3 separate regions of the Homo sapiens genome follow, and all the other regions are linked to region 2. The links come from fine-mapping of genetic effects on gene expression. A gene starts in region 2. Each other region holds a variant in brackets. All regions are shown on one strand. Distances are from middle to middle.

Evidence for each region. PIP is the estimated chance that this variant, and not a neighbour inherited with it, causes the effect.
Region 1: its variant is fine-mapped to the expression of MRPL27 in whole blood (TOPMed, PIP above 0.99). The same link has a PIP of 0.9 or more in nasal epithelium.
Region 3: its variant is fine-mapped to the expression of MRPL27 in whole blood (TOPMed, PIP above 0.99).

The regions. Positions count from the first base shown.
Region 1 is chr17:50,347,779-50,350,278 of GRCh38, reverse strand. The region is part of intron 1 of XYLT2 (xylosyltransferase 2); the gene reads right to left. Among named protein-coding and RNA genes, the nearest start is that of XYLT2, 2.9 kb to the right of the region's middle. The variant G/A (reference allele first, on the strand shown) is at 1,171.
Region 2 is chr17:50,371,813-50,374,662 of GRCh38, reverse strand. It overlaps MRPL27 (mitochondrial ribosomal protein L27), which reads left to right and starts at 1,479. Exons shown (of 4, transcript NM_016504.3): 1 at 1,479-1,532. The coding sequence starts at 1,493. EME1 (essential meiotic structure-specific endonuclease 1) reads right to left here and starts at 1,434. Exons shown (of 9, transcript NM_152463.4): 1 at 1,386-1,434. RefSeq lists enhancers at 1,116-1,335, 1,476-1,945.
Region 3 is chr17:50,338,376-50,341,225 of GRCh38, reverse strand. No RefSeq gene overlaps it. Among named protein-coding and RNA genes, the nearest start is that of XYLT2, 6.3 kb to the left of the region's middle. The variant A/G (reference allele first, on the strand shown) is at 1,485.

The DNA.
Region 1 (2,500 bases), 24 kb after region 2:
ATTTTTTGAATGAATGAATGAATGAATGCAAAGCTTTTGGCATAGGCACAGCATTCAGTAAGTACTGGTACTTTTTTTTTTTTTTTTTTTTTTTTTGAGACGCAGTCTCACTCTGTCGCCCAGGCTGGAGTGCAGTAGCGTGATCTCAGCTCACTGCAACCTTTGCCTCCCAGGTTCAAGCGATTCTCGTGCCTCAGCCTCCCAAGTAGCTGGGATTACAGGTATGTGCCACCATGCCTGGCAACTTTTTGTATTTTTAGTAAAGACTGGGCTTTACCATATTGGCCAGGCTGGTCTCAAATTCCTGACCTCAAGTGATCTGCCCGCCTCAGCCTCCCAAAGTGCTGGGATTACAGGCGTGAGCCACCATACCTGGCCCAATGCTGCTATCTTTATCATTATGATTACTCAGATGGGAGGAGGAAATTAGTCAAACGTGAAGTCAAGAGAGACCCAAGATCCTGGACATCTTGGACTCGGCTGGGTTGGGTTCTCTGTGCTCCTCACCTCCCCAGGACTTCCCCCAACCTACCCACTACCCTACCCACACCCTACCCACTACCAGTATGGGCACATCAGGAACCTCATGCTGTCAGGCTGACAGCTACCTTCAGGCCAGAGCCCCATGCCTACATCCATGCCCTCTGTGCCTAGCACCCAGCCAGCCTTCTGATCTTTTTATTTTATTTATTTTAATAGAGATAGTCTTGCTATGTTATCCAAGCTGGTCTCGAACTCCTGGACTCAAGCGCTTCTCCCACCTTGGCCTCCCAAAGTGCTGAGATTACAGGCATGAGCCACAGTGCCCGGTTGCCCTCTGATCTCTTAAAGGTGGCCAGTGGGAGCTGGGGGCGCCCATTCCCATCCGAGAAGAGATACCTGCAAGAGGAGGCAGCAGACCCTATTCTCTACCCACACTGGGGAGGGCACCACAGGCTGGGGAATCCCTAGGAAAGGTAAATGCAGCCCCACTGAGCTGAGTGTGCATCAGCCTGGTGACATGTGAGCTGGCTACAGAGCACAAGCAGAGAAAGACATTCCCAAGCTTAGGTGGGTAGATGGCAGAGAGCTGTAGGCTCTCCGAGTGGAAGCCAGTATCAGTGAGTTAGGAAGCTGGTCAGGAGGGCAGGGCATGAGGCACGGGGCCAGGTTGGCTGTGGTGGGGGCCAG[G/A]ATGTGGGAGGAGATGGGCATGTTGGTCCCTGCACTGCAGTGGGAGCTGGCTGACCCTGAGAAGGACAATCCCAGAGGAGGCTGGGGGATGAGGAGGCAGCAGTGAGGGAGCAGAGGCCCTGGTGGGCAGTCAGCCCCCACCTCCATCCCTTCCAGGCATGTCCAAGGAGCATCGTCATCACAGCCCCAGCCTTGTGCCCCTCACAGGCTGCCCCCAGCAGCCCCTGAGGTCAGGAGCCCTTCTGATGACTGAGGGTAGGGAATGGTCCTCTGACTTCTGGCTGGGATACATTCTGGCCTCAGAGGCTCCTTCCTCTCCTCCAAGGAGGCGATTAAAATCCTCTGCCACTTCCTGGCTCTGTAGCTCCACCTTAGAATCCTTCTCTGAGTCACAGAAAGGGTGAACACAGAAATGCTCCCCCCATACCCCACCTCCTTTGACTTCTCGGGCTGCATTTAAAACAAGTGGTGAGATGGTGTTTGTGGAAGCTTTGGAAACTATAAAGTGGCTCTCTGGAGGTTCGTGACCATCCCTGGGATCCACTCTCAGCCTCTCCATAGATGGGCAGAGTGCACGTCTTAAATGCACACTGAATCCTGTGCTGCTTAAACCCCTTCAGTGCTCTCCCACTGCACTTAGAATAAAACCCTTGCCCCTTGCTCTGGTCCTTTCAGCCGCACAGAATGGAACCTTCTTTCAGGGAAAGCACCACACCCTCCTGTCCATTCCTCAAGGGTGCCCAGCTAAGCCCATTCTCCTCAGGCCTTCTGCCTGAACTCTCCTGCCCACCTCTTCCTGTGAGAAGCCTTTCCTGACCCCCTGATCTAAGCCAACCCCTTTGTAATTCTATTAAATTCCTTTTCGCTGTCTGTTTCTCTCTGTAGATTACCTGTCCATGAGGGCAGAGACCTCATCTATTTTATTTTTGTATCCCCAGTATTAGCACAGTGTCTAGTACAAAGTAGGACTTCACACCTATTTGTGGAATGAATGAATGAATGAATGAATCGTATTCCCAATGCACAGTGCTGGGATAATAAGAGTTATTTATTTACTGACAGCTGAGCATGTGCCAGGAACTCCTGCAAGTGCTTCACAGGCATCATTTTCACTTAATCTTTATAATCACCTAACACGGGAGGTGCCATTATTATCCCCATCTTGAGGAGGGATACTGATAAGGATAAGGGAGGAGGCAAAGTGATTTGCTGGTGGTCTTCTCAGGGTCAGAGCTGGAAGAGAGTGGTGAAGTGGGTGGTCCAGCTTCAGCACTCACCTTCCCATGCACCCCGTTATGCTGCCTGGCAACCCCAGAGTCAGGTGAGGGAG
Region 2 (2,850 bases):
CCAGGCTAGTCTTGAACTCCTGACCTCAAGTGATCCGCCCGCCTTGGCCTCCCAAAGTGCTGAGATTACAGGTGTGAACCACTGCACCTGGCCAAAAACTGTTCTTTTTAAAAATTGAGATATAGGCTGGGCATGGTAGCTCATGCGTATAATCCCAGCACTTTGGGAGGCCAAAGCAGAAGGATCACTTGAGCCCAGGAGTTCGAGAACAGCCTGGGCAACATAGTGAGAACTCGTCTCTACAAAAAAATACAAAAATTAGCTGGGTATGGTGGCTCACACCTGTAGTCCCAGATACTCAGGAGGCTGAGGTGGGAGGATTGCTTGAGCCTGGGAGGTCAAGGCTGCAGTGAGCTGTGATTGTACGACTGCACTCCAGCCCGGGTGACAGAGTGAGACCCTGCTTCAAAAGAAAAATAAAATAAAAATAAAAATAGAGATATAATTTGCACAGCATAATATCCTTTTAAAAGTGTACATTCAGTAGATTTTAGTATATTCACAATGTTGTGCAACCATCATCACTATTTTATCACCTCAAAAAGAATTCCTGCAGCCATTAAGCCGTCACTGTCCTTTCCCTCCCTCCCCAGCTCCTGGCAACCATAAATCTGTCTCTATGCATTTGCCTATTCTGGATATTTCATATAAATAGAATCATACACTATGTGGCCTTTTGTGATTGACTTTTTTCACTCAGCTTGTTTTCAAGGTTTATCTATGATGTAGCCTGTATCAGTAGTTAATTGCTTTTCATGACTGAATAATATTCCACTGTATGGATATGCTACATTTTGTTTATCCATTCATCACTTGGACATTTAATTTGTTTCCTTTTTTTGCCTGTTATGAATAATGCTGCTATGAACACTGACATACAAGTTTTTGTGGGGGTATGTTTTCAAATCCCTTTCGTGTATATACCTAGGAGTAGAATTGCTGGGTCATATGCAAAGCTAATCATTTCTTGAACATTTACTAACACTGTAGGTATGACCCAGAAGGAGACATGTAACCTGCCTAGGCCTCAGTTTCTTCCTTAGTAAAACAGGGATGGTAACAGCACCCATTTTATAAGGTAGTGAGAATTAAATAAAATAATGCATCCACCGCGCTTAGTACAGCATCTGGCACACAGCTGGCTAAGTAGAGTAAGTTGAATGACTAGGGAGGGGGCCTCATCTCTGACCCTTCGCTGGGCCTCCGTTGACATCTGCAAATCAGGGGAGTGGGACAAGCGGGCCCCTGCCCGACAAGCTCTGCGCCTCTCAGGCTGGCGGTCCGCTGCAGAGGCTCCTGGACACCTTAGCCACCAAGATTCTGCAGAGCGGTGTTCAGGAGGGAAGCCCTGCCCAATCCGCAGGCCTGCGACCGGGGACGCTCACCTGCAACTTCTCCCGCCACTCTTTCAACTGCCACGCAGGGCCCGGAAGTAGATCTCCTGATAGCGGAAGTAGAAACTTTTCGAGACCGGAAGTGAGTGATCGAAAGCATGGCGTCGGTGGTGTTGGCGCTGAGGACCCGGACAGCCGGTAATGGGACGCAGTAGTCAGAGCGGGGTGAGGCGGGGAGGCAGAGTGGAGCTCCAGCAGGGAGGGAAGGAGGTGACACTGATCCCCGCGGAGGACCTTGGATGCGAGGGGAAGTGTGTGGGGTACTCCAGGTTTGAGGGACGGTGTCGCTGGTCACGTGACACATCCTGGGTGGAGCCGTGAGTGAGGGCGTTTGAAGAGCACTTGTCTTTCTCCTGCCTCAGCAGCACGGACGGGTTCCTTGGCGGTTGGGGATTTGGGTGGGTCCTTTCTCTGTAGAAGTATTAGTAACATTGGCATATTGGGGTTGAAAAAATTAATCTATTGATTCAGCAGATTGAGGTCTTACTTTGTGCTAGACACGGCGGTAGGTGTTCGGAAAATCAGCAGAAAACGTGAAGACTTGGCTTCTAGCCCCCGAACGGTTCTCTCTGGTGCATAAGGCAATAAATGAACATATAAAGTAGATGTAGACTGGCAAGTGCTGTGAAGAAGGATAATGTGTGTCTGTGTGTGTGTCTTTTTTTAGATTGGACGGTGAAGGAAGGCTTCTGAGGAGATAACATTTAAAACCTAAAGAATGACAGGCGGGGCGTGATGGCTCACGCCTGTAGTCCCAACACTTTGGGAGGCCTAGGTGGGCGGATCGCTTGAGCCCAGGAGTTCAAGACCGACTGGGCAACATGGCAAAACCCCATCTCTACAAAAAATACAAAAATTAGCTGGGTGTAGTGGCGCTTGCCTGTGGTCTCAGATACTCAGGAGGCTGAGGTGGGAGGATCACCTGAGCTCGGGAGGTCGAGGTTGCAGTGAGCTATGTTCATACCACTGCACTCCAGCCTGGGTGACAGAATGGGGCCCTATCCCCCCCCCCCAAAAAAAAAAGAATGACAGGAGACCTAGACCTGTGTAGAGTGAGGGACAGGAGAGTGACTTGAGCCAGTTTTACATTTTGAGAAGCAAACTATTGCTCTTATGTAAATTTAAAGGGGATAGGAGTGGAAATGAGGAAATCAAATGGAAAGTCGTAATAGCCCTGAGGAGAGATGATTTAGCCAAGATGTTTGTGGTGGCAGTGAACTTGGAGGAAAACGGATGAATTTGAGATCTGTTTTGGAGTTAGCATCCACAGAGCTTGCTGGTGAACAATATGTGAGGACAGCAAAGAGAAGGAATCTGCAATGACTCTGGTTTCTGCCTAAGCAACTGGATGAATGGTGGTACCATTTACTTTGAGGAGGAGGATGGGGAGTAGGGTGAAGAGCAAAGATTTGTGAGTGAGATAATGTAAGTAAAGTAAAAGCCCAGCTCCTGAGCT
Region 3 (2,850 bases), 33 kb after region 2:
GCCAGTTTAAAATTTTAATTGGCATAAGTTCCCTCTGCTTTAATCCTTACATTACAAAGTTAGCCTGAAGTAACCTGATGTTCACTCATCAGTTATTTTCTATTGTTCTGTCTCTATATTCCTGCCTTACCACAAAAAAGTAACTTTGAAAATTAATGAAGATGCTCTTTGCTCATTGCATCTGCTGTTTTCAGCCCTTCTCTGTCTGTAAGCCCAACCTCCTCTGCTGGGCTCCCTGGAATACTTTTCTATTTTATGGGTGAAGTGTTGCCTGATTCTAGAATCACAAATAAAGCCAATTAAGATCTTTAAACTATTTTTGTTGTAATTTTGACTTTTGACCATCCTCCCATCTCCTGCCAAAAAATAGCACAAAATTCTGATAGCACAAAATAACCAATAGGGGGAAAATAGAGGTATTAAAGGACAAAATATCAATTTTGAAACCCCAGCATGAGTGAATCCATTTTGATTTTTAGTCTGGTCTGTTGGAGCCTAGTGCAGGAGCTCAGTACAAAACAATGGCCTCCTATAATTCTTACTTAACAGAATCAACATCGTCATTATGAATGTTATTCTAGAGAAAAATGTAAACACTCCACTGCATCTCTCTTATTTTTCTTTTGCAGTTATTTTATTTATATTGTATGTCAACAGTATGAAGTGTTCCAAAAATGAAAGGTCCACATATCTTTCATTTTTCTATTTAGCCAGCCGAGAGCCCATATGCAATATTCGCTTCCTCTTTGGTCCTCTAGTTGTCTAAAAAGCCTGTGGGGTGGGCACGTGTAATTCACCCGGGGATATGAACTGGGCTTCCACACCCAAGCTGAAGAGCACTGGTGATGGAATATTCTGCTCCTGCAAATCATCTTACTTCTACATGGGGTTGCTATAGGAAGCTGGTCCATAATTAGAAGTTGCCCATACGGGCTTTCACTGCTCCTCTGATCCACTTCCTTGACCTGCTTACTAAGCCTAGACAAAGTGCCCATTACTTGGACTCCCAGGGTTGCAGTCTCAGTGCTCAGCTCTTTCACCCCCAGATTCTATTGGCTAGTATATTTCCACTGTGAGAAGTAGAAACTCTGTCTCCACTCCATTCCAAGTGACTGAAACATTAATGAGGCCAGGTGTGGTGGCTCACACCTGTAATCCCAGCACTTGGGAGGCCAAGTGGGGGTGGATCATTTGAGGTCAGGAATTTGAGACCAGCCTGGCCAACATGGTGAAACCCTGTCTCTACTAAAAATTCAAAAATTAGCTGGGCATGGTGGCACGTGCCTGTAATCCCAGCTACTCAGGAGGCTGAGGTAGAAGAATTGAACCCGGGCGGTGGAGGTTGCAGTGAGCCAAGATCAGGCCGCTGCACTCCAGCCTGGGTGACAGAGCTAGGTTCGGTCTCAAAAAAGAAATAAATTAATAAATAAAATAATGAGGGGAAGGTTGGAAAGTTCATACTTTGACCCACTCTCTATTCTCCA[A/G]ATACTTAACAATGAGAGATAAAGTTTTTAAAGGCATTGATAAGATATATACAAGCTTAAAAACAGGATAAACATTTAGGTGGATAAGAAAGAGAACAAACTGGAAAGCAAAGTGGTGAGTAGGACCAAAGCCAAGGGCCTATGGGGTAATGGGAACTAAAATGTTGCACAGGGAATGGGGGATGGAACCAGACTCTGGCAGCAGCCACAGACTAGAGTGAGGCTACCCTGCTTGTGAAAGGAGACTGAAAACAAAAAGTGCAGCTGACCAGATCTCAGGAGCTATGGCCCAAATGGTGGACCTAGGAAGGCTGCAGAACAAAAACAGCCTCACAACCCAGACTTAGGTCAAGCCATCCTCTAACTCTGGGTCTGCACATCTCCCAATATCAGTGAAGAGCATGAGTTCCCAACCACTATCACAAAACTATTTCTGGACTAGGGCACAGTGAATGCCATGACGAAACTAAACCCACCAGACAAAAAAGGAGAGAGTAAAAAGCACAATGCAAAAACAAAAATTCTCAGCTACAATGAGCCTGTAAACCCAAATTCCAAAGGACATGAAGAAATGGAATGATAAAAAAGATAGCCAAGCAATTCAACAACTGGAATATGAACTTTCTCCACATGAAATTCATCTCTTGGACTCATATGACAAAGACTTGAAAATAAGGATGGCTCAAAGAAGTAAATGAAGAAATCATCTGACAAACAAGAAATTATGAAACAAATGTAGATGAAAATGAAATGAAGATATACATATGAAATATAAATAATTATACATCTCAGAAATAAAAATGTAGAAAAGCAATAAAAATATCTCAAAAGATAGGGTGAACTTTAGACTGGATATAGTTGAAGATAAAATTAGTGAATTGGAAGATAGCTCTAAAGAATTGACAGTGAATGCAGCAAAAAGAGGTACTTTGATTAAAAATAAGAACAGTTTGAAGAGTAGGAGAATAGATTGAGAGACTCAAACTATGTATAACAGGATTTCCAGAGTAAGAAAATAAGGAAAATGGCAAGGAAATAATATTGAAGCTATGATAGCTGAGATTATTTCAGAATTCAAGGAAAATATTAGTAACATACAAGAGGATTTTGATTTTTAAAACTCAATCTGATACTCTAAGTTTTACTGTTTCTTTAATCAGTTTACATTTAGTGCCATTAATGGATTATTTGGATTTTCTTTGATTATGATTATTCCACATTTTCTGCTCACTGCCTTCTTTCTCCACTTTTTTTCCCTTTACTATATTCTGTTGGATTGGTAAAATCTTCTATTCTCCTTTTTCTCTTCCAGCAGTACCAGGGTTGGTACAGCTTTTATCAACTTACTTAATGGCTTTCCTTAATA